Linked DNA regions of Homo sapiens: all the other regions are linked to region 1. Evidence: fine-mapped expression QTL. A gene starts in region 1. Each other region holds a variant in brackets. All regions are shown on one strand. Distances are from middle to middle. Region 1 holds the start of AGAP1 (ArfGAP with GTPase domain, ankyrin repeat and PH domain 1). Region 2 overlaps AGAP1 (ArfGAP with GTPase domain, ankyrin repeat and PH domain 1). Region 3 overlaps AGAP1 (ArfGAP with GTPase domain, ankyrin repeat and PH domain 1).

The links. PIP is the estimated chance that this variant, and not a neighbour inherited with it, causes the effect.
Region 2: its variant is the best candidate, but not a certain one, in a credible set for the expression of AGAP1 in lung (TOPMed, PIP 0.57).
Region 3: its variant is the best candidate, but not a certain one, in a credible set for the expression of AGAP1 in skeletal muscle (GTEx, PIP 0.82).

What each region holds. Positions count from the first base shown.
Region 1 is chr2:235,488,680-235,498,731 of GRCh38, reverse strand. AGAP1 (ArfGAP with GTPase domain, ankyrin repeat and PH domain 1) reads right to left here and starts at 4,689. Exons shown (of 18, transcript NM_001037131.3): 1 at 3,883-4,689. The coding sequence starts at 4,045. RefSeq lists an enhancer at 2,562-3,435.
Region 2 is chr2:235,573,925-235,583,976 of GRCh38, reverse strand. All of the region lies in intron 1 of AGAP1 (ArfGAP with GTPase domain, ankyrin repeat and PH domain 1), which reads right to left. Among named protein-coding and RNA genes, the nearest start is that of TNRC17, 61 kb to the right of the region's middle. The variant G/A (reference allele first, on the strand shown) is at 4,654.
Region 3 is chr2:235,752,376-235,762,427 of GRCh38, reverse strand. All of the region lies in intron 6 of AGAP1 (ArfGAP with GTPase domain, ankyrin repeat and PH domain 1), which reads right to left. All of the region lies in intron 3 of LOC105373942 (a long non-coding RNA gene), which reads left to right. Among named protein-coding and RNA genes, the nearest start is that of TNRC17, 240 kb to the right of the region's middle. The variant A/G (reference allele first, on the strand shown) is at 5,801.

The sequences.
Region 1 (10,052 bases):
CTGGGAATCGGGCCGCCTGGCTGAATGAGCTGGCTGGGCTATCACTCACATCACGGTCCTGCTGCTGGCAAGCTGAATTACGATGTGTGACTGCTAAGAGAGGCTTTATCCTTGAAAGAAGAACAAGCTTTATTGAACAAGAAAGGCAGTTAATTCATCTACCTCAATGCCATCAACCCCCGATGGACTTTTCTAAGGAGAACCAGAGGGGAAACTAACACACGCTGTTCAGACTGGAGGCGAGATGGCTCTCAGGCTCATTTCTGGGCATGGTGGCTGCGGAGGCTCCAGAGACGACACAGCTGTGTGGCTACATTTCACAGCATGCCATGCCCCATAGGACATCCCAGAAACCTGATCAGATAAATCTGGAACAATCAGCAATGCTTCCTTAAACTCTAGTGATTTGGGGGTGAAGGGAGGGGGGAATAAACCTCTCAATGTACAAAACAAAAATTGGGGGAAAAAAACTGTTCTCTTCTGACAAGCTAGTGTTTTAAAACAAGACTGAGGGCAAAATCACCTGTATCCCATGCCTACAAACAGGATTACGGATGTGTTTTTATTTGGGAGCCTTGGTGGGCCTTTCAACTAAAATATGTTTAGTCCATCGTTAAGAGATTTTACAACCCAGACCCACCTCCACGCGCTCTGAAATAAGCATTAGCCAAAACATCCTTCCCCTGGACAAGGCTGCACCTCACTCCAACAGCAAAAATTCCTGAAGATGCCAGAAAACAGTGAAGTTTTGAGTAGGGTGCAGCCAAATGTGGGAATTTTGTGCCAACAAGAGAAACCCTATCTTCAAAAGCTCTTCATAACGTTAAGAAGTGCCCGGCCGGGCACGGTGGCTCACACCTGTAATCCCAGCACTTTGGGAGGCCAAGGTGGGTGGATCACGAGGTTAGGAGACGGAGACCATACCGGCTAACACAATGAAACCCCGTCTCTACTAAAAAAACAGAAAAAATTAGCCAGGCGAGGTGGTGGGCGCCTGTAGTCCCAGCTACTCGGGAGGCTGAGGCAGGAGAATGGCGTGAACCCGGGGCGGAGCCTGCAGTGAGCCGAGATTGCGCCGCTGCACTCCAGCCTGGGCGACAGAGCGAGACTCCGTCTCAAAACAAAAAAAGAAGTGCCCACATCACGGTAGTCCAGAAGCTTGGGAAGTCAGACCCCAATTCTGTGTATGCACATACAGAGGAAGGGGAAAAAATCCCTAGCTGGAAATCTTCTAAAATGTGGCCAGCTTTCTATTTGGTGGGACAAGTGACTTTTTGAGCCATTTGTTATGATGTGCACCTGCTGTCCTGATTGGAAACAGTTAGACTTTAAAACCTCCAAGGTGCACGCACAGGCAGGGGCAGCTCTCTGCCCCTGCAGGGAGCCCTCTGCAGTTACTGTGATGTTCCAGCGCAGGCTTAGTTGCCAGCACTGGGTTCCTGCCATCCACATGCAGTGTGGAGACAGAAACTCCATTCAAATGATCCCTTGGTTCAGATCAGACTTCAAACCACCTCAGTCAAATGTTAAGGAGGTCATTATCCCTCCCTGAACCTCCACCCGCTCCTCCATAAAATGAGGATGAGGAAGCTACCCACCCACCCTCACAGGGTTGGTGAAGCCACACAATGAGACTATACATGCAAAAATATTTCTGTTAAAGTTCTACAGAAATGAAAAGTGGTATCATTATTGATAACAGAAGAACATGCAAAGAACAGCAGCATGTCTGAGTGGTTCTTAAGCCTCACTAAATTAACTACAGCTCCACATAATGTAGACATCCCTATTTCTAAGAGAAAAATAACAGCATCACCCCAGTCCCAAACAGGATTCACCCAATGATTCTAAGCCTTATTAAAAATGACAAGGATCCCGGCCAAGAAGGGGCCTAAAATCTCAAATCGCAAAGGTAGGCATCGTGCTGTCAAAAAAAACCATCATCTAGGAACGACGCATTTTTTTTTTCTTTTAAGGGAGAAAGGAAAATGCAACCACATCCTCTTGCTAGAAAGTCAAACTGCTTTGCTGGAAGTGCTTGAGCCCCAGAGCTCAGCTTCAAGAATGGGAAATAAAAACGAGGTGTTGTGAACCCCACTCAGCCAGAGGTCTTCATGCAGCAAAAGAGGCTCTCAGCCAGGTGCCTTCAATACCTGACGCCGGCTTTCACAGTGTTTCATCAGACTTCTGTGGATGCAGCCAGAGAGCCAGGAAGAACCATCTGAAATGAGCACCGTGCAGCCTTCACAGCTCCCGTAACAGACGCAGAGCTGGAGCTCTGGAGGAACCTTGCTGCAACACCACCTGATCATCAGCAGATGGGTCCAGGTCCCACCGCCACTCATCACGAGTCATGCAGAGGCAGACAGAGCCCATCTCTTGAGGAATCCACAGAGCATCTTAAGTCACCAACAAGGCAGCCAGGTGACCTCATGGGAGACAGATACACACAAAGGGCTAGGACCCCATAAGGCTGGAGCTCCACCCGGATCCTCCCCTGGAATTAACAAGTCCCCCAAGGGTATAGTCTGCCAGTCATCCAGCCTGGCTGGGACATGGTTCAAGTCTACAGGGCTGCCAAATGCCAAGGGCTCAGCAACACAACATCCACTTTCTCCACCTAACTGGCCAAGTTTCAAACCAAAGCACTTCGGGGTTAGTAGTTCAGACTACATAGTGCCAAGGCAAAGCCTCTCTGTGGGCTGATACCCTCTCCCTCACAGAGGGAGGAGGCTGGGCAACGCCAGCACCAGGCTTTCAGGCACATTCCTGCCGGCTTTGGGCCATTCTCAATGTTCCTCAATAGAGGTCTTACCGGCCAGTCTGTATTATGGACAAGCCACTCTGCAGGCTTTTTACCATCACTGGCCAACAGCGCTGAGAAGGGAGAAAGTGCTGATCAACTGTGGCTAAGATATGACTCCACACTGTCCACGCACATGCCACCTGGTGCCCCAGGTGAGTCTTGGCCGGACCAAAGGGATGAAGCAAGAAAATAAATCAGCAGCCTGGAAACAGAGAAATGAGAGCCACCAGAAATCCAGAGGGCACAGCCCCGGAAGGCAGACTGCTGCTGTAGCTCTCCTGGAAGGCCATGGCCCTGCCTGACATGCAGAGGGAAGCGGGTGGGGATTCTGCCCAAGCATCCTGCCCCTCTTAAAACCACAGCACCCTCCACTTCAGTGGCCTCCAACTGCAGACATATGAAAGCGAGACCCTTCCGCTGGAGGACGCCCTGCCCTCCTGGTAGGGTTCTTCCTCTAATCCAACCCCGGACTTTTGGTTGGTACAAAGCACACTACCGGTTCCAGCGTTTGCACAGGGGCACCTGGACACGATGCTCCCGCGGCTAGGGCTGGCTCTCGGCATCCACTAAGTTCAACTGCACCCCTGAATTAAGCAAACACACTAAGGAGGGCAGCCCTGCACCGCCCAAACACGCCGGCCCGGGCCTCGCCCCCAGCGGCAGCACTTCTCAGAACACGTCTTCAACGTCCAGCAAGACGCCCAGGCCTGGCCTGGTAACCTGTCAGGGGTCGGGTGGCGCCGACCCCGCCGGCTGCCCCCAGGCGTCTGCTGGGCCGGGACGCTCCGGCAGCCCAGGACGCGGAGGCACCGAGCCACTTTCCCGCAGGAGAGACTCTATTGTCCACGATCAAATTAACGCTGACGATCTATCTTCCTGGCGGAGCTCGCGGCGCGGCGGGGCGCAGGCGACGCTCGCCCGGCCTTGCAAGACAAGCAGCGCCGCAGTGCTCCCTCGGCGGAGCAGCCGCGTGCCCCGGCCGGCGTGTGTGGACACCCGCACGCACACAGCGCACACCCCCGCCGCGCCGCGGGCGTCCGTGCCTTCCCGAGGCCCCAAGGCGGCCCGGCCCTCACCTTCGATGGCGATGACGTGCTCCCGGATCTGGTTCTGCAGCACCGGCTCCTCCACGCGCTCCAGCAGCTCGTAGATGGAGTAGATGTTGGGGTGGACCGACTCGAAGCGCTGGATCTCGGCCCGGATGGCAGCCGAGTTGGCCAGCTGCTGCTGGTAGTTCATGGTGCAGGCGCCGCGCCCGGAGCCGCGCGCCCCCCGCCGCCGCCGCCCCGCGCCCCGGGGCCCGCGGGCCGCCGAGCCCGGGGCGCCGCAGCCCCCGGGGAGCCGGGCCCGCCGGCGGCGGGCGGAGGAGGCGCGAGAAGAAAGGCGCGGGCGGAGCAGGCGCGGGGCTGGCCCGCGGGCTCAGTTCATGGCCGGGACGCGCGGCCGGCGAGCGAGCGGGCCCCGGCGTCCCGGGTCAGCGGGCCGCCCGGGGGGAGCGCGCCCCCATGGAGCGCGCCGCGGCGGGTGCGGCCGGCCCCGAAGGAGGCTTGCTCGGGTGACTTCCTGAGCCGCAGCCGCCTTCCAGCCCTAGGCGCTGCTCCGCGGAGCAGCCATTAAAGCCCAGGCAGCCGCCGCGCTCCGAGCGCCGGGGCCGAGGGCCGACCCCTGGGCAGTGTGGCCGCGCTGCTCTGGGCTCCTGGCCGTGGCGTGGGTCCGCGCGCTGCGTACTGCGCCGCCCGGCGCGCCGGGGCCCCCGCGCGAGCCCGCCGTGCGCCGCCCGCCGACCTGGGACCGAGTCGCAGGCGCCTTGCAAGCCGCGGAGCCCGCTCCGAGCGCCGCCCGCCGCCTGCCCGGCCGGCCCCCTCCCTGGCACGCAGGGCTCCGGCCCACGTCGGCCCCGCCCCCGCCTTCGCCCTCGCCCGCGCCCGCGCCCGCGCCCCGCCTGCCCGCGCGCTTGCCGCCCTCCGGCCGCCGGCGCTGCGTCCTCCTCGGCGCTTCCCAGCGCGCCGGATCCCGGGGAATTGCGCCAGGCCCCGCCCCGCGCCTGCCTCTGGGCTTCCTGGGACTTGTAGTCCGCGCCCCCGGCGGGCCGGGCCAGGGGGGTGCGCGGGGTGTTCACACTGGGCCGGGGTGCGGGACCCTCCCGCCGGCCAGGCCCCGCGCCTGCCAGCTCCTGCCCGGGTTCTCGCGGCGGCCCCCGCGCCCCGGCACGGGGGAGGCTGCCCGGGAGTTCGCCCGCCGCGTTGTTGTTTGTTTCCAAGCGGCTGGCTCCAGGAGCCTCTGCGACTCGCCAGTGTCCCACGGCCTCGCTTGGTTGGCGAGCCTCCCCTTCCCGCGTTTGGTAACTTTCTGCCTCCTTTCTCAAAGTAGCACACGTGCTTTCCCTTAATACATGCGATTTCTTTCCAAAGGCGAAGCGCCTCCTGAGCCCATGCGGCGTGGGGGTCCACACTCCACGAGTGGACTGAAGTTTAGACAGGGGTGCGAGATGCGACAAAATACCACAGAGGCTTTCGAGGCATCCTTCTCCCTTACAATTTTTAAAAATCGAGCCGTGGATCTCAAGCTGCTGCCTCCTGAGCGCCGCTGCCTGCTCCACGGGGTTCCTTAGCCCCTGGACCGTCTGTCCCACCGCAATCCCCGATTTAGGTCATCCCCGGGGACCCCCCGCGGAGCTGGGACCGCACTGCAGCAGCGCTTGGAAGGCTCGTCTCGCCGCTTTGAGGCAAATGGGACCCTTCAGATTTGCGGAAGCACTGGCTGCCGGGCGGTCCCACAAGGTCCTGGATTGAGGACACTGGCTGAGTCCCTGCCCCCAGCCATCGGCGTGGTCTTTCTGAAACTCAGCCAGCCGGGCCGGCATCCCCGTTTAAAGCCTGCTGAGCCTTCACCGGCTCACATGCAGTTTGCTATGGCCTAAGCACCCTGGTATCCAGCCGTGTTGGCTTACTGGCTGGGCTCCACAACTTCCCAAAGATGTGCTGACATTTTTACCATTCCGGACCTGCTTGTCTTCTCCTTGACACTTAGGCACAGGTCATCACTCCATGCCTCGGGCTGTCCACGCATAAGTAACTCTAGTAACCAAGAGGCAGGCATGTGGCCTCACCAAACCTGACCTATCAGCAGCAGCTGATCACTTGCGCTCCTGGAAACCCCTTCTCCCAGTGCTCACCAGGGCTTCCTGCTGTGTTTCTGGCTTCACTGTCCCTTTTGTGGTTTTCTTCTACTCCCCTAACCTCTAAATATGGAGGGCCCCAGGGCTTATGGTTAGGCCTCTTTTCTTTGCTATTTGCTGTGATCGCCCCTGTCTTATGGCTTTGAATATCATACACAGGTTAATGAAGCTCATATGTATCTCCAGCTGTGACCTCACCCCTGAATAACAAATTCACATCCACCTGCATCCTCAACATTTCCTGAAGCCTAGCTGGTGTTTAAGTCCAGCATGTCGCCAGCTGAACTCCTGCCATCCCTTCCGGCTACATCTCCTAAAAATCTTCTCCATCCCAGTCATCGGCAACTCCAGGCCACCATTTGCTTAGGCGAAAAATTCAGTGCTGTCCTTTTTGCTTATCATTCTCTCATATCCCAAATGGTGTCAGCTCCACCTTCAGAGGATCCAGAATCCCACGACTTCTCACCACTCGGCTGAAGTCAGGATCATCTAGCTGGACCATCACTAGATCTAACAATTGTAATAGCTCACTGCTTCCTACCTGGTGAAACTTACAAAACCTACGTCCGGACTTGTCATGCCTTTTCTCAAAACCCTCCAATGACTCCCATCTGGCCTCGCCCCACAGGCATGAGCTCTTATCAAGAGCTGCTCAGGGGCTGAGCTATTCCCCTACTTGTAAGCTAACAAGTTAGCCTGCCACAATTCATGGATGCTGGCAGAAGACATGAGACTCCCAGATCAGAAACAAAGGACTTTGTTATTCATAATAGTAGCATTAGCTGGAATATCAGCATTTTCATGCACCAGTTTACTGAGACCCAATTCCCACGGGCAACATGAGGCCCAGGTGAAGCCTGTACTTGGAGTCAGCTGCCCTATACGAGTTTTATAAGTTTTTAACCCTTAGCTTAGAGAGCTCAGATCTTTCATACGGGCAGTAAGTGTGTCTGCCCTTCACTCCAGAGGGAGACACTGTTTTTATCATGGACAGTAAGCATGTCTACCCTTGACTGTGGCAGAAAACATTATCTCTGTCTTCCAAGGCTGTTTGCTCTGCAAACATCCTTGAGAATATAGTCCAGAGCAAAGGCGCCTGGTGTCTCTACCTGTGTACCTGTGTTACCCAGCAAGGGCTGCCATAAAAACCTTCCACAGGCCTGGCATGATGCCTCATGCCTATAATCCAACACTTTGGGAGGATTGCTTGAGCCCAGGAGTTCGAGACCAGCCTGGGCAACATGGTGAAACCCCATCTCTACAAAAAATACAACAATTAGCCAGGCACAGTGGTGTGAGCCTCTAGTCCCAGCTACTCCGGAGGCTGTGCAGGGAGGATGGCTTGAGCCCAGGAGGTCAAGGTTGCAGTAAGCTGTGATCATACCACGGCACTCTAGCCTGGAGGACAGAGCAAGACCATCTCAAAAAAAAAAAGGCCGGGCGTGGTGTCTTACGCCTGTAATCCCAGCACTTCGGGAGGCCGAGGCAGGCGGATCACGAGGTCAGGAGATCGAGATCATCCTGGCTAACATGGTGAAACCCCGTCTCTACTAAAAATACAAAAAAATCAGCCGGGTGCAGTGGCGGGTGCCTGTAGTCCCAGCTACTCGGTAGGCTGAGGCAGGAGAATGGCGTGAACCCGAGAGGTGGAGGTGGAGCTTGCAGTGAGCCAAGATCGTGCCACTGCACTCCAGCCTGGGTGACAGAGGGAGACTCCTTCTCAAAAAAACAAAACAAAACAAACACACAAAAAAAACTTCCACAGGCTGCATGGCTTTAACAGAAATCCATTTTCTCAAAATGCAGGAGGCTCAAAGAGCCAAGATCAAGCTGTTGCAGGGTTGGTTTCCCCTTGGCTTGTGGATGCTGCCTTCTCACTGTGTTCTCACAGGGTCTTTCCTCTGTGTGTCTGTGTCCCCATCTCCCCTTCTTAGAAGAACTCCATTCATATTGGATTAGACCCCTTCCTAATGACATCGTCTTAGCTTAGTCATCTCTTTCAAGGTCCAATTTCTGAATATAGTCATATTCTGGGGTACTGGGAGTTAGGACTTTAATATATGAATTTTGGGGACATAATTCAGCCTATGACTGTCTCTCTCGCCACAGCATCTCTACTTCTAGCCTGTTCTCTCCTCTTCGGCCACACTGGCCTCCTTGTTGCCCCCTAAATATACCCATCACACCCCCACCCTTGTCATCTGCTTCTCTGTCTCCCTGACCCCTTCACCAGGACTTTTGTTTCCTTATGTATTTGCTCCAAAGCCACCTTCTCAATGCGACTTTCCCTAACATCTTCTCTAAAATGGCATCCCTGTTCCCCAACACTTCATGTCCCCCTTCCTTGCCACAGTAGAAAGAATAATGGTCCCCTAAGATGCCCACATCCTAATCCCTGAAACAAGTAGATATGTTAGTCTAAGTGGCAAAGGACTTTACAGGTCTGATTAAATTAAGGACCTTGAGATGAAGATATTATCCCAGATTATCTGAGTGGGCCCAGTGTAATCACAGGAGGCCTTATACGAGGAAGGCAGGAGGGTCAGAATCAGAGGAGATATGATGACAGGTGTAAGAGAGAGAGAGAGGAGAGGAAGGCAAGGGAGAGAGAGAGATTGGAAGATGCCGCTGGGCTGACTTTGAAGATGCAGGAGGGGGCCACCAGCCAGGGAATGTGGGCTGCCTCTACAAACTGGAAAATGGAAGAAAACAGATTCTCTCCTAGAGATTCCAGAAGGATCACATCCCTATTGACCCATTTTTGGACTTCTGACCTCCAGAACTATAAGATAATAAATTTTTGTCATTTAAGCCACTAAATCTGTGCTAATTTGTTATAGCAGCAATGGGAGATTAATGCACTTGCTTTATGTTTTTCTTAGCACTTATTCCCGTCTAACTCACCATATACTTTAGTTATTTATCTTGTGTATGGTTTGTGTCCCCCATTAAAACATAAGCTCCACAAGGGCCAGGATTAATTTTTGTCTGTTTTGCTCCCCATTCTATTCCAGTGTCTATAACAGTAGCTGACACATAGTAGCTACCCAATAAATGTTTGGCAAACAAACAGCTTCCCCATTAAATTATAATTGTCATGAAGACAAGGACCATATTTCTCTTGCACAGGGCTTGGAGCATTATAATGCAACAAACGTTCAATAAATTAATTAATCAACAATATCTCTCCTATGGTAAGAGCTGTTCTCTCATCATGCCAGGCACATAGTAGGTGCCTAATAAAGATTTGCTGAATTAAAATGGAAGTTTCTCCAGCAACATGGGACCCAGTGACATTTACCAGGAATGTGCTGCAGATTTATCTTCTGTGAATAGAGCCAAGAATTCTAGCCGTGTGTGTGTGTGTGTGTGTGTGTGTGTGTGTGTGTGTGTGTGTGTGTGAGACGGTCCTTCCAGGCACTTATAAGCTCTGAGTGAAAACTCCACTGTGAGAGCAAGCCAAGCCTTAAAGTAGTGAACGTCTTCTGTCCCAGAAATATCAAAGATGGTTTGAATGATCAGCCCATTCATTTGTTCATTTATTCTGTCACTTATTTATTCATTCAACAAATCTGTATTGATCATCTACTGTATCCTAGGCAGGGTGATATGTTCTAGGGATACAGAGGTGAAAGATGAAGCTTGCCTTTAGTGAGCTTGCATTCCAGGGGATTATCTCTTGAAGAAACACTGCTTCTAGCGTTCAATTTCTGAATCCAATCTGAGACTGCAAACAAAGAATAAGTGAGAGGCCAGGCACGGTGGCTCGCACCTATAATCCCAGCACTTTGGGAGGGCGAGGTGGGTGGATCGTCTGAGGTCAGGAGTTCAAGACCAGCCTGGCCAACGTGGTGAAACCCTGTCTCTACTAAAAATACAAAAATCAGGCCGGGCGCGGTGGCTCACGCCTGTAATCCCAGCACTTTGGGAGGCCGAGGCGGGCGGATCACGAGGTCAGGAGATCGAGACCATCCCGGCTGAAACGGTGAAACCCCGTCTCTACTAAAAATACAAAAAATTAGCCGGGCGTAGTGGCGGGCGCCTGTAGTCCCAGCTACTTGGGAGGCT
Region 2 (10,052 bases), 85 kb before region 1:
CCCAGCACTCTGGGGGGCCGAGGCAGGAGGATCATTTAAGTCCAGGAGTTCAAAGACCAGCCTGGGCAGCAAAGTGAGACCCCATCTTTTTTTTTTTTTTTTTAAGACATGATCTCATTTTATCACCCAGGCTGGAGTGCAGTGGTACAATCTTGGCTCACTGCAACCTCTGCCTCCTGAGTTCAGGCAATTCTGCCTCAGCCTCCCGAGTAGCTGGGACTACAGGCGCACACCACCACACCCAGCTAGTTTTTGTATTTTTAGTAGAGATGGGGTTTCACCATGTTAGCCAGACTGGTCTCGAACTCCTGGCCTCAACTGATCCACCTGCCTCAGCCTCCCAAAGTGCTGGGATTACAGGCATGAGCCACCACACCAAACCTCTGAGACCCTATCTTTACCAAAAAAAAAAAAAAAAAAAAATTAGCCAGGTATGGTGGTGCATGCTTGTGGTCCCAGTTACACGAGAGGCTGAGTATGAGGCTGAGTATGCTCTCTTCCTATCAGGCCAACAACCACCGGCCTGAAGCAGCCGCATAGGTTCAAATGAGTTTCTCTGGTAAGATCACCATGGCTGGGGTTATATGGCAGTGAGACCAACGCAGGCAGGGGACCCGCACCTGACCCTGGCCCACTTGGAGTTACCCCAGAGTTACATGAGAGGCTGAGTAAGAGGATCATTTAAGACCAAGGTTCAAGGCCGCAGTAAGACATGTTTATGGCTGCTGCACTCTGGCCTGGGTAACAGAGTGAGACTTGGTCTAAAAACAAAAGCAAACAAAACAGGTTCTTACATTAAAACCCTGAGTTTACATTAAAACCCAGGCAGAGGACCCACACCTGACCCTGGCCCACTTGGAGGTGCCCCAGAGCCCCTGGCTTCTGGCTTTTCCCTTTATGAGTCAAGGACAAATGAAGTTTATTCTAGAAAATGCAGCTGGTCTGAAAGTGGCCAGTTTACTAGGGAACTATTTCAACTTTAACACACAGGGGTCCTTGGCAGGTTCCGAGCCAAATCCCAACAACATAAAATGAGTGGAAAGCAGCCTTACAAGCTTCCTCCCGATTCCGGAACACACTCCATCAAAGGCTCACCAAAATCCTTGCCAGTGCTGCCTCCTGGAGTCGGTCAGTGCTAGAAAGCACTTTAGGAAATGCAGCATAAGGCTGTGATGCCGGGAGGCTAGGACGTGGGACTCAAGTGCCAACTCCTGCTAACAGCAATGAGAGCCCAAGAAGGACCACGAGCCCCCTCTCTCTGACTTCTCCCAGGCTCCTTCGGCCATCACTCCAGCAGCTAAATCCTTCCTTCTGAAGTACACTCCGTGCTTTTGTTGTAAAACACTTTTAAGAAATATTTATAGGTCCTCCCCCAAAGAATCCTTCTTTTATATCTGAGAAGCTCAAAATGTGGCATCCCTTTAATCTCAAGGCACCAAACCTCAACACATAATTACACGCATGACCAACCAACCCCACGATCTGACTCAAGAGGGCTTCATCAATGCAATGAGCTCCCATGATGTCTAAGGGGACACCCATGCTTCTCAATGAGGCATTTAGGGCAAGTCGCTTCTACACTGTGTGGCTCCTGTCCAGCACACTGCAAAGGACAAGCAATCCTGGTCTTGGGCTTTAGTGACACCCTAAATGCCAGCACAAAGAGCCACACCACCTCGGCAGGCAGCACCACGCAGCGGGGTAGAAAGACTCAGCACACTCCTGGACCTGCCAAAGGTCAGGCTCAAGCTGGGGCAAGAATGGGTCAAAACCACAATCATGCGCTCCAGGGCTCACATCTGGTGACCAGGGGCCACCACTAGGATCCAGGGGTCTCTGCTCCTCGTATAGAGCAGACAGCCCCATAGCATCACTATCAACTCCTGCCTGCTGCAATCACGTCTTCCCTGGATGGAAGGAACATTTCATGTCTCCTAAAGACTGCGTTAATATGTTGGGTTGCTGAAGGACATCAACACTCAGGCCTTAAGAATTTCCTGGGGTGAACACAGAATAATAAAACCTCCCCGGGTGCTAATTCAACAATCATAGTCCAGTTTTCTTCTTCCAGGTTTCAATTTTTGACACCAATCATTGTGATGTTTGAGAATGTCCCCGTGACTGCAGGATCTCCATGGTAACCTTGTTATTTTCTTTCTTTCTTTTTTTTTGAAGATGGAATCTCGCTCTGTTGCCCAGGCTGGAGTGCAGTAGCACGATCTCGGCTCACTGCAACCTCCACTTTCCGGGTTCAAGCAATTCTCTGCCTCAGCCTCTTGAGTAGCTGGGATTACAGGCATGCACCACTACACCCGGCTAATTTTTTGTATTTTAGCAGAGACGGAATTTCACCACGTTGCCCAGGCTGGTCTTGAACTCCTGAGTTCAGGCAATCTGCCTGCTTTGGCCTCCCAAAGTGTGGGATTACAGGCATGAGCCACTGTACCCAGCCTATTTTCTTTTTAAATGGCCTCCTGGAATATATTTCCACCAGTTTCACACTCAATCCATTAAAAAAAAAAAAAAAAGAACAATATAAACAATCTTCTTCATGATTGAATTCTTAAAAAGCTGGGGACAAAGACCAAGCTGGAAGTCCTGCACCTCCACTGAACAGTGTGCAACCTCCAAGTCTCCATCTCTTTCACCCTCCATCTTTTTTTTTTTTTGAGACGGAGTTTCGCTCTTGTCACCCAGGCTAGAGAGCAATGGCATGATCTCAGCTCACTGTAACCTCTGCCTCCCAGGTTCAAGTGATTCTCCTGCCTCAGCCTCCCAAGTAGCTGGGATTACAGGCACCTACCACCATGCCCGGCATTTTTTTTTTTTTTTTTTTTTTTTTGCTTGAGATGGGGTTTCACCATGTTGGCCAGGCTAGTCTCGAACTCCTGACCTCAGGTGATCCACCGACCTATGCCTCCCAAAGCAGTCTCTGTTTCTTAAAAAGCCTCCACTCCACACCTCACGGGATTACTGTAAGGATCAGAGTGTGCAATAATATACACAAAAGTGCTTTGTAAACTGTCAAGCCATGTGGTAAACACAGCAGTCACAAGTTATTCACCATACAAGGAGCAGGGCCACATTACACCCTAAGGTCGAGAGCAAGAACCCACTGCTCAGAGACAGGATGATCACCTCTCATGCCAGGTCAGATAACATCCTCTCTAGATTTTTTTCTCTTTCCACCTTGAACTCAAGCTGTGTGATTTCATTCACTGTTGCAATTGCTGACTGTCATCTAAGTGCCACTGTCAAAACATTAGAGGCCAAAGAAGTCAAAAAGAACTAAACACAAAAAGATAGCTATCAGCAGGTAACAAAACCATTCTCAATAAACTCAGCTTCAAGAACTCCTGTACATGAAAATGCCCATAGTCAGGCACAAGTAGCTGTTTTTTCATATGTTAATGTCATTTATTCTAAGAGAGAAGCACTCTCAGATACACTCGACTCTACCTCTAGAAGACACTAGAATGGTGGAGTAGAAAGCGCACCCTCCCCAACCCTCCCTCCCCCACTGCCTCCAACAAGCACCGAGGGAAAAGCCAGCACTGCCACTGTGAAGGAGATGCAAGAAAATGAAGAAATCAACCCGACAAAATGTAAGCGGCCGGCACGTCTTCATTCTCACCACTAATGATGGGGAGAACAGTATGGCGGTTCTTCTCAAAGTCAAATACAATTACCTTTCCAAGCAACCACTCAGCTCCTAAGGATATACTCCAAAGAGGTGAAAATGGCAACTCAAGCAAATCCCTGTACACGCACGTTCATAGCTGCATGGTTCCCTGTAGCCAAAAGATGGACACAAACGCCCATCAACAGATGAATGAATAAACAAAATGTGGTCCCTCCATACAATGAAATATCATTCAGCTGTAGAAAGAAATGAGGCACCAATGCATGCTACCACCCTCGATGAATCTCAAAAACATTATATTAAGGGAAAGAACCCAGTCACAGAAGGCCACATGTTGTATGGTTCTGTTTATATGAAATGTCCAGAATGGGCAAACCCACAGAAACAGAAGACTGGCGGTCGTCAGGTGCTAGGGAGAGGGGGAAATGGGCAATGACTGCTGAAGAACATGGGGTTTCCCCTGGGCGGGGGTGATGAAATTGTTTTGGAACTAGACGGGTGGGTGGTTACACCATGTGGTGCATACGCTAAGTAAGTGTTCACTTTTTTTTTTTTTTTGAGATGGAGTCTCGCTCTGTTGCCCAGGCTGGAGTGCAGTGGTGCCATCTCCACTCACTGCAAGCTCCTCCTCCTGGGTTCACGCCATTCTCCTGTGTCAGCCTCCCGAGTAGCTGGGACTACAGGTGCCCACCACCACGCCCGGCTAATTTCTTTGTATTTTTAGTAGAGACGGGGTTTCACTGTGTTAGCCAGGATGGTCTCGATCTCCTGACCTCGTGATCTGCCCGCCTAGGCCTCCCAAAGTGCTGGGATTACAGGTGTGAGCCACCACGCCTGGCCAAGTGTTCACTTTTAAATGCTTAACTTTATGTTATGTAAATTTTGCCTCAATATTTTTTAACGACAACAACAAAAGAGCCAAGTCGCCCCCTGGGATTGCAACCCACAGCTGTATTGATCATGCCCAAATAAGGTTTGTTTTGTTTTAACAAAAAGGCTGGAGACCTCAG[G/A]GCATGGGAAGGACAGTGAAAGGTTACGTCACACCAGGAAGGATTAAAGCAAAAGTGTCGCCTGGTAAACTGAGCCCGGCTCTGCAGAAGCCAGCTGGGCATAAATAGAACTGCCTTTCATTTCTGAAGCCCTCAGTGGGCAGGGGCTGACACAGTGCGCCCTTATACGAAAGTTTTACGACAGTAAACCAGCCACAAAAATGAGCGCTCCACTGTGACACAAGCTGGGGAAGGCTGCTTCATGGTGATAATTTGGTTTCCTGGTTTTCTTTCCAAGATGATTCAACTGGGTACCTTTTAACTTTAGCCAGTAATAAGAAAACCCTTAATTCTTCTAAGACTTAGACTAGCAAAGAGAAAGAAACAGAAGTAATTCAAATTACATATCTATATCCGTCTGTGTGACTGACAGCTAGAGGGACAGGCAGATAGGTAGACAAAGGTAAAATTTTGACCCTCAACAGTGAAAAACTATTGGGCTATACACAAATGTTTATTTAAATAGCTTATTGTAAAAAAAAAATTTTTTTTTTTTTTTTGAGACTGAGTCTCGCTGTATTGCCCAGGCTGGAGTGCAGTGGCACAATGTCGGCTTACTGCAACCTCCGCCTCCTGGGTTCAAGCAATTCTCCTGCCTCAGCCTCCCAAGTAGCTGGGATTACAGGTGCACACCACCACATCCAGCTAATTTTTTTGTATTTTTAGTAGAGACGAGGTTTCACCATGTTGCCCAGGCTGGTCTCAAACTCCTGACCTCAAGTGATCCGCCTGCCTCAGCCTCCCAAAGTGCTGGGGTGGCATAAGCCACTGCGTCCAGTCTGTAATTTTTTAAACTGTGGCAAAATACACACAAAATGCATCATTCTACCCACTTTTAAGTGTGCAGCTCAGTGGCACTAAGTACATTCACACTGGCACATGCTTACCATCATTTTTAAAGGTCTTAATCATGTCACTGACTTCTCCCAGGACACCTGGGGGCAGGTAAGGGGAACAGGCATTGTGGTTCTTAGGTTGTAGTTTGAGGAGAGGTCAGGTCCTTGTCAACAAAGGTGTGGGGGCACAGTGCAGGTAGGAGACGGGCACCGTGGAGCTCAGGCTGGCTCTGACAGTGGCAGTTTCATGACATGGGGGGCTCAGCTCCAACCTTGGTGGCCAAGTCCTTTATAGCTCTACTGGTCAATGGTGGTCCCAGAACTGAGGCTCGCCCTGGAACTCTTGTCTCTGCTCCCAATCACGCTCGGACCCTCAGACCAGCAGGCAGGATAACAGTGGTACCCAGCTCCTCACGAGGGGAAGTCCTGATGGCGGGACCAGCACACGCAGGCACCTGGATGGTGTCGGGTGCGATCCAGACCCCCTGTGCAGACACTGCTCCCTTGTCTGCATCAGGAGCCTCAACAAACAGCCCCGCTCAGACCAGGCTCAGTGTTTGGTTTTTTTCATCCGTACAAAGGCGAACTATCAGGTCCCAGCGAGCAGACATGGGCCTTTTGTGCAGCGCTGAAGGAGGGATTACATTTCAGGAATAGCAAACCTACTCTCTCTCCCGGGGGAGGCCAGCAGACAAGCCTGTGTTGAATGCACTTTTTGTTTACTGGCTCAATCAGCCAAGCCTTCGAGGGGATGACGACACACACGTTCCACTCGGCGAATGTTCCGAATGCTCAGAGTTAACTGCCCAAACAAAAATAACCGGGGGAAGAACCATGTAGTCAGGCAGCCACACAGCCATGCTCCGGGCAGCAAGGGACTCTCAGCTCCCACCGACTCCAGCAAGCGACCAGGGACACAGGAGCTTCCGATCATTTCCAAACAAACACAGGACTCTGCTCCAAGCAGGCATTCAGCGAGAGGCAGTGTCTCATCTGGCAAAGGCTTTGGGCAGAAGGTCAAGAGAATGGGGTTTTAATCAAAACCCTAAGGCCGTGGTGCCCAATACAGTAGCTCCAGCCACAGGTGCTACTGAGCACTAAAATGTGGCCGAATTGAAATGTGCGATGAATGAACATTACACAGCACCACCCAAAGCATCAGTACCAAACAGGATTATAGCAAACCTCGTCCACAAATTCCAGATAATTGCAATGAAAGGATAATATTTTGGATATGTTGGATTAAACAGTTTATTAAAATTAATTTCATCTGTTTCTTTTATTTTTTCTAATGTAGCTAGTAGAAAACTTTAAATGACGTATGTGGCTGGCATTCTACTTCCACTGGACAGAGGTACAAGGGGGTTCAGGAAGGCCTGATATTTCAGGACAACAGAAATGCTTTTCTTGGTGAAGATGCAGAGGTAGAGTTTGGCATTTGGGGTATGGAGGGAAGATGGATACCTGTGGAAGGAGGGGAAGAAGCAGAACTGGCCAGAGAGAGGCTGAACTGCCAGGCAAACCTGAGGCCATCTCGCCAACCCAACAGGGAGCAATGGAGAGGCCATTAGAATTGTCCCATGATGGGTCCAGATGGCCCCACCTTTCTGCCCTTCACACCCTGGAAGAACAGTCACGGGAAGAGGGTCTGACAGGATGTACCCTTACGCTGGGCATCTCTCCATGAGGAGCTGCAGCTAATGATGCTCCCAGCAGCAGGGGCGACAGTCCTCCCTCAGAGGGGGCCCAGGCCAAGGCATCCCCCTCCTCTCTAGAGTTCCACCTTCTTGCCTGCGGGACTCGAACCTGCCCTCAACGGCCCCTGAGGTTCTAGCAGCCTTTAGGGCACAGCACGACCACTTGGGAACACTGCAGTCAACCAATACCTGCAACAAAGTTCTTAAAACCAGCTGCAGTGAGTCACCTCATTAAAATCAGGCAATGCTTCCAGCACACGGAGAGGAGATATTCCCCAAGCACCACCTGCCTGGTGACCAGAATATACCATACTCGTCAAACTTCAGGGGAAACAGCAAATGAGGACACAGCGCACTGAGAAGCACGTGCTGAGTACAACACACACAAAAATAATCAATGCATTAGCTTCTAGTGAACCAGGTTAACAACTTCTGGCCCCCAAACACTTTTATAGAAAAGACTGGAGAGTAAAACGAATATGGTGACTGACAAACTGGACAAAGACTCATAGCACAGAGGCGACCAAAGCCCCTATCCTACCTTTGCCACTGGGGAACCTGAGGCCCAGGGTTGCGCCAGGTATGGACCCAGCCTCCTGCCTGGTGCCCTCCCAGCCTGGTGGCTCCTCCTGTTGCAACCGGGCTCTGGGGAGCGACAAATCACCCACAGTTGGTCTCTGCCACACAGCGGCTTATCACAGGCTGTGCACGGACAGTGACACCCAGAGAGGCTTAGGTCCCTAGGACAAGGGAAAGGTATCCAAGAAGTTATGTGAGGGGACAACACGTCTCATAAAAATGCCACTTTTTTTTCACATCATCTTCTTTTGAAAACAGAACAGAAGGGAATGTCTTATCTGATGTCGACAGCAGACAATTCAATGGAGACAGACTTCCCTCCCCAATCTCAGTAAAGAGGTGGTTATTTTACGGAAAGAAAAAGGACACCAGAAACAGAAGAAAGACACATCTCCATTTACTTGAAAAGAAAAAAGCTGAAAAGAACCTTTGCAATAAAAAAGTGTTATAATTTTAGGCATGCAAACCTGTGCGTTCACACCTTTCCCTACGGCAGCCCTTTCTCCCAGGTTCCAGGAGTAGAGCCCAGGGCGCATGTCTGAGTTTGTCTCTGGATACTAGTGTCAAACACCTGGCCACCCGTGAGCACAGCTCACGGAGGAGGCAGAGCAACAGGACAAACGGGTATCTGAAGATATCATTCAACAGCCTAGAATCACACTGGTCCTTAAAGGAGAAAGCCTTCCAGTTTCCTCGGCTCAGCTTTTCCCAAACTTCATGCACCACCTTTGTGGCTTCTGCCACATTCAAAGACCACCTAAACTATCACCTACTTCAACTCTCTTCAACTTTAAATTCTTTCAAATCTTAAGTTTATCCTAAGTATTAATATTTATGAACTCACACCTTTGGTGTCTTTTTAATACACATTAAAACATATACAAATAATCAACAAACATGACATGTAATTTAGGAATTTTGGAAACACTCATCATATCAAGCTACATTTTGTACAACTATTGAGCAGCTGGAAAAATAGCCACAAATCCAACCACCATCTCTTTATTCTCAATGTCACCTTTTTTTTTGGTTTGTTGTTTTTGTTTTTTCGAGACAGGATCTCACTCTGTCACCCAGGCTGGAGTGCAGTGGTACGATCGTGGCTCACTGCACCCTCAACTTCCCAAGCTCCAGCGATCATCCCACCTCAGCCTCCCATGTACCTGGGACCATAGGTGTCTGCCTCCATGCCTCGCTGATTTTTGTATGTTTGGAAGAGTCAGGGCTTTGCCATGTTGCCTAGGCTGGTGTCGAACTCCTGAGCTCAAGTGATCCATTTGCCTCGGCCTCCCTAAGTGCTAGAATTACACGCGTGCTCCACTGCGCCCAGCCTCAACAAAGTTTAGATTCTAAACCAAAGGTCTCAGAAAATATTCAAAATTAGTTATTTGGTCTTGTGTGATTTTCTTTCTTTTATTTTTCTCGTTCATTCCCTCCTGGTGTACTTGGTCCATTATTCCTCTTAATACAGTCTCTTTAAAAAGCAAAAGACCTTCCTTTTAGGGGTCAAATGCACATGACTATTCATTAACTGTCGCACAGAACCAAAAAGGACCTAAAAGAACACTGCTTGACTTTTTGAACAGCCTGGTAAAAACTATCAAATCAAGGAAACCAAAGACTTCAGTGGTGGGAAGTGTTTAAAGAGATTTAAAGGTATAATCTGATCACAGCTATTAAAAGAGAAACTACACTGCCAAAAAGGGCTCTTCCCAGTGGCTGAGATTTACTTTATCAGATAATGCACCTTCACTAATTACATTTCGTTATACAGTTTATGCATTTAGCAAAGAAGAAAAAATGCTTCACACATACAATTAAATCAATCCATTGAGGCCTTTCCCTTAAGGTAAGGGAACATTTTCAGCTTTTCTGTTCGGAAGATTTTAATGCCTGATGGCAGGAGTGGGGGTGGATCTCAGAGGCGTTTTTAGGATGATTATCCAAACAACCTGAAAGAGTCCGTCCAGGCCCAGATGCTTCAGGTGCCAGAATGCAGTCACAGCTGAATGCCCAGCTGGGCCTGAGTGCTGCTAATGAAGCTGATGACAACTTTTAGGTGATGTCCCTGCAGGCTGTGGACCTCAGATAGGACAGGCCCCAAGGCACCCAGGCCCTGCCTCCCTGACCAGCTAACAGTCAGGGTCTGGTGAAGCCAGTGGGCTCCTGGCCAACACAGGAAGGGAGGGGTCAATAAAAAGGTTGTGCGACAGCAGGGGAAAGCTGAACAGAATGCCAACCCGCTGGG
Region 3 (10,052 bases), 260 kb before region 1:
CCAACCTTTAGGGATGCCCCTGATCTGCTCGGAGCCTGAATTCCTCACATCCTCTTGGAGCCAGTGTCTGGCCAGGCTCAACCTACAAGGACTATGCAAAAAATATCAAAGTCCATGAGACAAAGCCACCCTTTCTGAGGTTAAAGAACTTCACAACTTAAAAAGGATTACTATTCCTCATCTTTCATCAAGTGAACAAATTCAGTGCTGCTAACCCAGTGGTTTGTGGGTAGCTCCTCGATGAGTGAAGTTTACTTAGAAAAAAGGACCACATGGCTATGTCCATATTCTCTGCAATTTTTTTTTTTTTTTTTTTTGAGACGGAGTTTTCCTCTTATCCCCCCAGGCTGGAATGCAACGGCACAATCTCGGCTCACTGGAACTTCCGGCTCCTGGGTTCAATCGATTCTCCTGCCTCAGCCTCCCGAGTAGGTGGGATTACAGGCATGCACCATTACACCCGGCTAATTTTTTGCTTTTAGTAGAGATGGGGTTTCACCATGTTGGCCAGGCTGGTCTTGAACTCCCGACCTCAGGTGATCCACCCACCTCGGCCTCCCAAAGTGCTGGGATTACAGGCATGAGCCACTGTGCGCCCGGCCTATGTCCATATTCCCTAAGGAAAAAAAAATTATAAAAAACTTCAAAATAACTGGAAAACATCAGCTACAGATTATAACAACTTCTGACTATCCTAGTTAAGTAATATTCTCTTATTCTTTTGATCATCGATTCCATGGAGGGTTAACTAGGTCAAAAAGTACATCACTACTTAATCATTTTAAAAACATTAGAAAGAGCAGAATGCCGTGGCATTATGAACAGATTATGAACAAAAATAAAAGCCATTTGTATGCATTAATGATACATCACGCTAATTCAAGCTGGCTCAAGTCATTAGAGAGAAGTCCTGGGGCAAAACACAGCTATGATACCGCAGTGCAGAGAAGTATTAAAATAACCATTTTCTATGTCATTGATAAAATTAATTCTATGAGCAAAAGAGATGAGTCTTAACATGAAAATCAAAATAGAGAACATTTACTAATAGTGTGTTTAATGATCTAATGTTGGCAGTGTGAGAGTTAATTCAGGCATTTCTCTGCACACGTATGAGCATCTGTGCACACTTAACGTTTCTAGTAAGAGAAGCACAGCAGGAAAAATCCCAGACTTAGGGTAAGAAATTGCCAGAAGAGATCACAGGCTCTATTAACACAATATTCTGCAACATCACTAAATAACAATTTATTTATTGTCTCTGGTTGTTTGCAGCATCAACCTTAAGATTTTAAGATAATTTCTTCCTGTTATTTCTGAAAGAATCAAAATTCCTTTCCTTATAGGTTCCTTGGGTGTCACTCTATCATGTTTCATACTTGACCCCATATTGCTAAGGCCAGCAGGTGCCATCTGTAGCGTATGGAGCACAATGATAATTAAGATATTCCCTCCCCCACCTAAACATTTTCATATTAAATGGCTGGTGTTAAGCAAATCAAGCGATAGACTGAGAGAGAATCCTTTAAAAGTTGGGCTGCTGGGAGTGGTGGCTAACGCCTATAATCCCATCACACTTTGGAAGGCTGAGACAGGAGGATCACTTGAGACCAGGAGCTGGAGACTGGATTTGGCAATACATCGAGACCCTCATCTCTACAAAAATTTTGAAAAATGACCTGGGCATGGTGGCATGCACCAGTAGCGCTAGCTACTCAGGAGACTGAGGTAGGAGGATGGCTTGAGCCCAAGAGTCTGAAACTGCAGTGAGCTATGATGGCATCACTGTACTCCAGCCTGTGTGACAGATCGAGATCCTGTCTCAATTAAGAAATAATAATAAAAAGAAAGGGCAACTCTAAACAAGAAACAAGCTGATTTCATACTTCTAAGATGAAATAATTGAAATAATATTCAAAAACACTTGGATGATTTAAGGATAATCACCTCAAGCACATTCTCAAATTACTCCTGAAAATGTCTGGTGTAGCTTCATAACGAATTCTATCTTACACATTTGTATTTATTTTGTTTTTGGTTTTGTTTTTTGAGACGGAGTCTCGCTCTGTCGCCCAGGCTGGAGTGCAGTGGCGTGATCTCAGCTCACTGCAACCTCCGCCTCCCGGGTTCAAGAGATTCTCCCTCCTCAGCCTCCCGAGTAGCCGGGACTACAGGCACACGCCACCATGCCTGGCTAATTTTTGTATTTTTAGAGAGGGGGGTTTCGGCATGTTGGCCAGGCTGGTCTCAAACTCTTGACCTCAGGTAATTCGCCTGCCTCAGCCTCCCAAAGTGCTTAGATTACAGCTGTGAACCTCTGCGCCCAGCCCATCTTCTGTATTTGTATTTACCGAGTGAATATGGAAGATTTTTGTCTCAGTTGATGTGCCAGAAGCTTCTCTCATCAGTAAAACATGTGCTTTTATAGCTTCATGAGGGTAAGAATTTTTCAACCCAAACTAATTTTTTTCTAAAAATAGTAACTCAAAAGTATTTTTCATTTTGTTGGATTTTTTTAAACCTCTGAATGTATGGTTTACTATACAAAAAGCTTTATTTTAGTTTTGGTATTAATTTGCTATTTCAGTTTATAATTTAACCCTGTTGTAGAAAGAGCTTCTTTGGTTAAGAACTGAATTCGAAAATGCATATGAAGAAAGGAGTTGACAATGTCATGTTTCATAAAAATGATCACCATCAAACATTTATGTATTTTCCCATCCAAATATAAACCAGGGATATGGCATAAGAGAAAGACCCACACAAACCCACCAAGGCTTCTTCCTCACATGTGCGCCCCCACCAACAGGCTGAATCAAGTCTCCTTACAGTCAACAGCAGGTCTGCACCTCTCCCATTCGCTGGGAGATAAGCTACTAGGCAGGTCAGATGTGGCTCTTCTGGAGACCATCTGCAGATTCTCACATGCACTGGATGGCCCTACATGTGAAGCTGCCAGGGCCGGGCGCGGTGGCTCACGCCTGTAATCCCAGCACTTTGGGAGGCCAAGGCGGGCGGATCACGAGGTCAGGAGATCAAGACCATCCTGGCTAACACGGTGAAAGCCCGTCTCTACTAAAAATACAAAAAAATTAGCCGGGCGTGGTGGCAGGCGCCTGTAGTCCCAGCTACTTGGGAGGCTGAAGCAGGAGAATGGTGTGAACCCAGGAGGTGGAGCTTGCAGTGAGCTGAGATCACACCACTGCAGTCCAGCCTGGGTGACAGAGCGAGACTCCATCTCAAAAAAAAAAAAAAAAAAAAAAGAATGACATCAACAACCCTAGGGCTAACGACACCAGAATGTCTCCCAAACCAGCATCAAACCCCCTTATATGACCGGGTGCCATGGCTCATGCCTGTAATCCCAGCACTTTGGGAGGCTGAGGCGGTCGGATCGCTTTGAGCTCAGGAGTTCGAGACTAGGCTGGGCAACATGGCAAAACCCCATTTCTACTAAAAATACAAAAACTAGCTGGGTGTGCTGGCACGCACCTGTAATCCCAGCAACTTGGGAGGCTGGGGCGGGAGGACGGCTTGAGCCCAGAAGGCAGAGGTTGCAGTGAACCAAGATTGTGTCACTGCACTCCAGCTTGTGTGACAGTGAGACATTGTCTCAAAACAAAACAAAAACAACACGCCTTACGTGACTTGATCATTTAACTCTTGAAGAATGTTTTCTGCTCAGCCCCCAACCCCCATTTGTATTGGTACCGCATAAGTGCTGCCAGAGCCTTACAGAGGTCACTTTCTTCATGTCATCTTTGTTCTCAGAAAATGTTCAAATATGAACCCCCTTAATGAAGTGTAATTTAAGCAGCTGAACCTCTTTCATACTGTCCCAATACACATCTACCACCCATCTGTCCCAGGAAGTCTTAGAAATAAGACTTTCAATGTGTGGAGGGGGTGAGGGTGTAGAGACGGGGACAGTGATGAGTACAGGTGCACAGCCAAGACCACAGGTAGAAACGGGAAATGATGGCCTCGCCTGACACCAGCTGCACCATGTACCTCTGGGAAGGCAGCATTTCCAACAATGTAGTCCCAGCTGTAAACTGGGCCTAATAAGATCCACTATCCTACATCATAAGCCGTTAAATTGTTGCATAATTATTAGTCATTACTACAAGTGATTAAAAAATGGACAATTAATGACCCATTAATCCACCTTTTCAACATATATCAAGTGCCTAATGTACACATATACATGGCTTGCTTTCAAGTGTAAAAAATCTTATTTTTTGAAGTATTCCCTCGCTAACACACATATACACACACACATGCACGCATGCACACACACACTAGTTCCAATCTAATCTGTAATAAAGGAGAAAAAAATAGCAACAAAAACAAATCATAAAACAGGCCACCCCGACAATGAAAATTAAGCTGATTTCAGGAAAGAATGGAATAGGCTTAACTGATACATCCTTTAACAGCACAAGGACTGTGGTGTGAGCAAAACAAAATGGTCCAAGATGATGCAGGACCCAGGAGAAGAGGCCCAGAAGACTGCTTACATTCACAGATGCTCTAGTGCGTGCAATTAGGTTGCACAAACGGACTCATTAACATAGCTCCCCTGGTTCTGGACACTCCTGTAATTAGGACCAGGCAGCTGCAGCCATTTAATGTGAGATGGGGTTCTTTGCACACACCAGGATTTCAATCTCTGGAAGCAAAGCATCAAGAGCACACCGAGGCTCCCTGACTTCCCGCACAACCTTGGTAAAAATCATGCAACCTCTCCCAGCTCGGGCTCTCGGCATGGGTTAGATAGGCCCAGGTGAGCCGTTACTGGGAAGGGACAAAAGACAAATGGAATGGCTTCTATAAAAGTGCTTTCCAGAATGTTAACTGCAGCACAAACATAAAAAGCCAGGGGCAATGAGGTCAAAGGACTGACATGGATCTGCCTAGACCAGGAACTACTCTACCAGATAAACACCCATCCACCAGGACGATGTACACAGCGTGTGAACAGAGGAAGCCCTAATAAGCCACAAGGCTGTGGCCACACTAGCACCTGGCACACAGAGCCCGGGAGCACTAGCACCTGGCACACAGGGCCCGGGAGCGCTAGCACCTGGCACACAGCGCCCTTCCAGTGCCACTGCCCAGCTTTCCCATACACCTAGAACCTACTGTCTCTCCCTCCACAATAATGCAGATCTGTTCTAGGACAGAAGTCTATGTGAGATCACCAAACTGGCCCTGGAGACCGTTAAGCAGAGAGATGATAATTTGTAATTTATCTCTTTGACATGGATCTTGACCTGGTCTAACAACTACTATCAAAGTTCTGCATGTAGGTTTTCCTATGGTCATATGAATACAAGCTTAAGACGCTGACGTTTTGGTGGGGAGCACGTCCTAGCACAGTGCAGATCATATATCTAATGTGATGTTCTGAACTGGGATTTAACAAGTGACTAGAAGGTTCAGAAAATGCATGCAAGAATATTAAATTCTATATAGCAGCAGTCCCCAACCTTTTTGGCACCAAGGACTGGTTTCATGGAAGACAATTTTTCTGAGGATCAGGGGTTGGGGGGCAGGTGGGGGATGGGGATGGTTTTGGGATGAAACGGTTCCACCTCAGCTCGTCAGGCATTAGAGTCTCCTAAGGAATGCGTAACCTAGATCTCACGCATGCACAGTTCACAACAGGGCTCGTGCTCCTAGGAGAATCTAAGGCTGCTGCTGATCCGACAGGAGGCGGAGCTCGGGGAGTAATGCTCACTTGCAAGCTGCTCACCTCCTGTGCAGCCTGACTGGGGACCCCTGCTGTATACAAAAC[A/G]TGCTGGGATGCAAATAAACAATCCATGCATAAAACCACACTGTGGACCACTCACGTACATCTTTATCAGCTCATTCTAGGAGAGGGGGAGTGAAGAGAGAAAGGGCATCGAGCTGCTTGGAGAAGAAATGAAAACAATTCTTTGTACCACTATCAGGTTGTACTCCTGATTGCCTATGAAAGGGAAACCCCTCTTTCTTTAGGAATCAGGGGCCTTTAAAATCCCACATGCCATACAGCTACCACAAAGACACCATAATTTAACAATCATAAACTATGCCCAATAAAAGTTAGGGTGCATTGGCTCAAGAATGTCAAAACCAACAAAAAAACCCTGATCCTGTCTCCCCGATTGAACAGATGCCACAACACAGGCCCCTGTGTTCCTCTGTGGCACCGCCACCCGCAGCAGAGAAAGCTCCGAACACGCTACTCAGGAAGACGAGAAACTCAAAGCATTTGAAGACAGGCTAAAATTTACACTCTCCAAAACCTAACTGCAGGGAACGACAGTGCTGAATGCACCATCTCCAAGAATATACAGGCAGAGCCCGCTCTCCACTCTCTTCCTCCCAAGGTGCACGTGTAATGCTCAAAGGGGCCCTGTTGCTACCTATACACAGCTTGCTACCACCTTGAACATGACTTGGCCTTCTGAAGGGAGGATTTATTTTTGTCACTAAGTTATAACTATTTTAGGTGACCTTTCAGCATGTAGGCTGAAAAATCCCATCACCAAAACTATACCCTTCCTGACCTTCCGGAGACCTGACTACAGTCCCATGTCAGACACACACTCTGTCTGTCCAGAAGAGCTGCTTGCTGCCACTCAGAAAGCTGCTTCTTCATATGAAGTGGGAAAAATGTCTCTTTAAAGAAGAATCGCAAGCTGGGTGCAGTGTGTCATGCCTGCAATCCCAGCACTTTGGAAGGCCGAGGCCAGAGGATCACTTGAGGCCAGGATTTCAAGACCAGCCTAGCCAACATGGCAAAAACCAGTCTCTACTAAATAGCCAAAAAGTAGCTGGGCATGATGGCGCACACCTGTAATCCCAGCTACTCAGGAGGCAGAGGCAGGAGAACTGCTTGAACCCGGGAGGTAGAGGCTGTAGTGAGTCTAGATCGTGCCACTGCACTCCAACCTGGGTGACAGAGACCCTGCCTCGAAAAAAGGGAAGGGGAAGGGGAGGGATCGTAGGACCAGAGGAACAATGTCTACATGGAATGAACTTTATTTTTCTGTAATCCTTCATGTTCATGTATCCAGGCCCTAGGAGAACAAATCAACAGGGACTTTTGAAAAATTTAATGCCAAACACTGAAATCACCATTTTAACTTTAAAAATAGAAAAACTTGTATATAGGTTATTTCCCAGTTGCAGGAAGAGGCAAACAGAGCCATGCAGAATCTGACAGGCACAGAGCCGCTGGCTGTGAAGCAATCTAGGAACGAGAGCCCTGTGCAGTCCCTGCAGACGGACCTGCAGCCCCCAGCTGCCAAGTCCGCACATCCAGCCCGCCCCAGCCCCCAGTGCCTCCCTTCCCCAGGGCTCTGCTGAGAATCCAAACGGTTGGGTACCCACAGCCCACGTCCGGCTCAGCTGCCCAGGTCAAGCAGAAACCATCTTGTGGAACCAGCTCACCCAGCCCCGCAAGCCACACAAACTCGCCTGTGAGCAGGAGCGAGAACGCTCCACCCCCAGAAAGCAGCCTGGGCTGCCACACTTCTTTTCCACCCCTGAGCAAGACACAAGGTCATGTTTCTGGGTGACCGTTTGATGTTTACCCTCCCTAGTGGACCTTAACTTCACGGAGGAAGGGACCCTGCCTGCGCTTCCCAATCTGCCTCTAGCCCCTGACCAGACGCACAGTGTGTGGGAAGCTGGTGCTCAGATGAACGAGTGACTGGGTGGATGAACCAGCCTGCTAGGCTGCTTCCCAACACCTACAGCCACTTGCCAGTAGCCATCTGGAAACTCCATGAAAGCAAAGTAAACAGGACCACACAAGCGAACAAAAAGTGAATGCAAGGTTTCTCCATTCATTTTTACAATGTCCTTTTGTTACAAGACACTAAGAAGTCAAATGTTGGAGAAGAAAGAATGAGGTCCCTGGCCTTTTAAATGAACCTCGGTACAGAGCCAATCAGGAACATGGCCTCCGCAGGGCAATGGAAGCAGCTGGATTTTTTTTTTTTTTTTATTTACAAGCCAAACATTATGTAGAAATTACACGCTTTTCCTTTATGTTTTCTTTCTACCATATACAGGTATAAAAAGTAAATAAACAAAGTAAGCCCTAGGGCAAAAAAGAAGCCAGAGAGTTATCAAGAAATGTGAATAAACTGAGTCGGCGAGCAGGCAGGGGCCCTGCTGGCTGGGTGCATCCCCTGCAAGGCCCTCCCCAGACCTGTGGGCAAAGCTGGTGTGTTCTTAAGGCCCCAGGACCTGATTTGCTTCCATTTTAATGACAAAATGTCCCGGTGCTGTGGTTAAGTCGAGGCTCTCAGGTCCCAAGATGGGGGATCCAGTCCAGGCTGTGTCCCTTTGGGTCAAGCTATGTCATTTCTCTGAGCCTCAATTTCTTCAACTTTATATAAACCTTACAATGTTTAACTTTCCTTGAGGATTTTTACTTTGTTATTAAGGATTGCTAAGTACTGAATAAAGCTCCTACTCAGCAACTACTTTTCTCACTAACAATGAGAGTGTTTGTGATTTACATGAAAATACATATACAAATAAGAAACCATATACCATATAACTATGATATAAAATATACAAAGTAACTGATTTTATTTTAAAAATGTTATCTTCATATGAAAATATTTTAAGGACAAAAAAATCGCAATAGTCACGGAAGTTGTAGCTTCACAGGTATTTGCTTTTCAAATTCCATAAAATCCTACTTTTTTTTTTTTTTGAGACAGAGTCTCGCTCTGTCACCCAGGATGGAGCGCAATTGTGCAATCTCAGCTGACTGCAACCTCCGCCTCCCAGGTTCAAGCGATTCTCCTGCCTTGGCTTCCTGAGTAGCTGGGATTACAGGTGCCTGCCACCATGCCCGGCTAATTTTTTGCAATTTTAGTAGAGATGGGATTTCGCCATGGTGGCCAGGCTGGTCTCGAACTATGGACCTCAGGTGATCTGCCCTCCTCAGCCTCCCAAAGTGTTGGGATTACAGGCCTGAGCCACTGCGCCCAGCCAAAATCCGAATACATAATGAGAGTGTATTATTTCTATAATACGAAACTGGAACGGAAATCTCCTGTGCCCATGAAAACGGACACTCATCACAGCATCACCTGGGGAGGTGCGACATGAGCTGTCACAGTAACGGAAACGCTTTTTCTGAATATTTTAAACTAATATTTAGAAATATCAGTCCTTATTCTCCTCTTGCCACCCCCAACCTGAAGAAAACGAAATGCTTCCAACACAGAGGTGGGTGGCTGCCTGTCCTCTGCCTTGAACGTGCTGGGTGTGGTATGGAACTCAACCCAAATTCTTATACTGAAATCCTGACCCCCAGGGGAATAAGAGGTGGGGCCTCTGCCAGGTGACTGATCACAAGGGTGGAACCCTGTGATGGGTTAAGTGCCTTTATGGGAAGGGACTGGCGAGGGCTTGTGTCCTCTGTTCTCCACTATGCAAACACATATCCCACTAGGAGGATGGCCCTCAGCAGACACCACACCCACCAGCACCTGGCCCTGGACTCCCATCCTCCGTAAGTAGGACAAGTAAAAGTCTGTTGTATAAGCCACTGGGTCTTGTTAGAGCAGCCAGAACGTACAAAGGCTGTTTGGCAGGAAGGCAGCATCATCCTGACAACCCCCAGTATTCATTAATTGACAACATTATTTTTATAAGAAGCACTCATCAATTTATGGAAAACTCATGTATGTTAACCGTGATAAATACAAAAGCAAAGGAGTCACTGTGGAAACTAAACTTATCCAGACAACTGAGTCCCTGATATCCTGCATCGGGGACCGGCAAGCTCTCTGCACGGGGCCAGAGAGTGAATATTCTGGGCTTCTCAGGCCGCAAAGACCCTCATCTCTGCTGTCACAGCTGGAGAGGGGCCCAAACCCGCTGCAGCCCATCGACACAAAGCGTGGCTCTGCGTCATGAAAAGTCTATTTACAGCCAGGCGCGGTGGCTCATGCCTATAATCCTAGCACTTTGGGAGGCCAAGGTGGGCAGATTGCCTGGGCTCAGGAGTTTGAGACCAACTTGGGCAACATGGT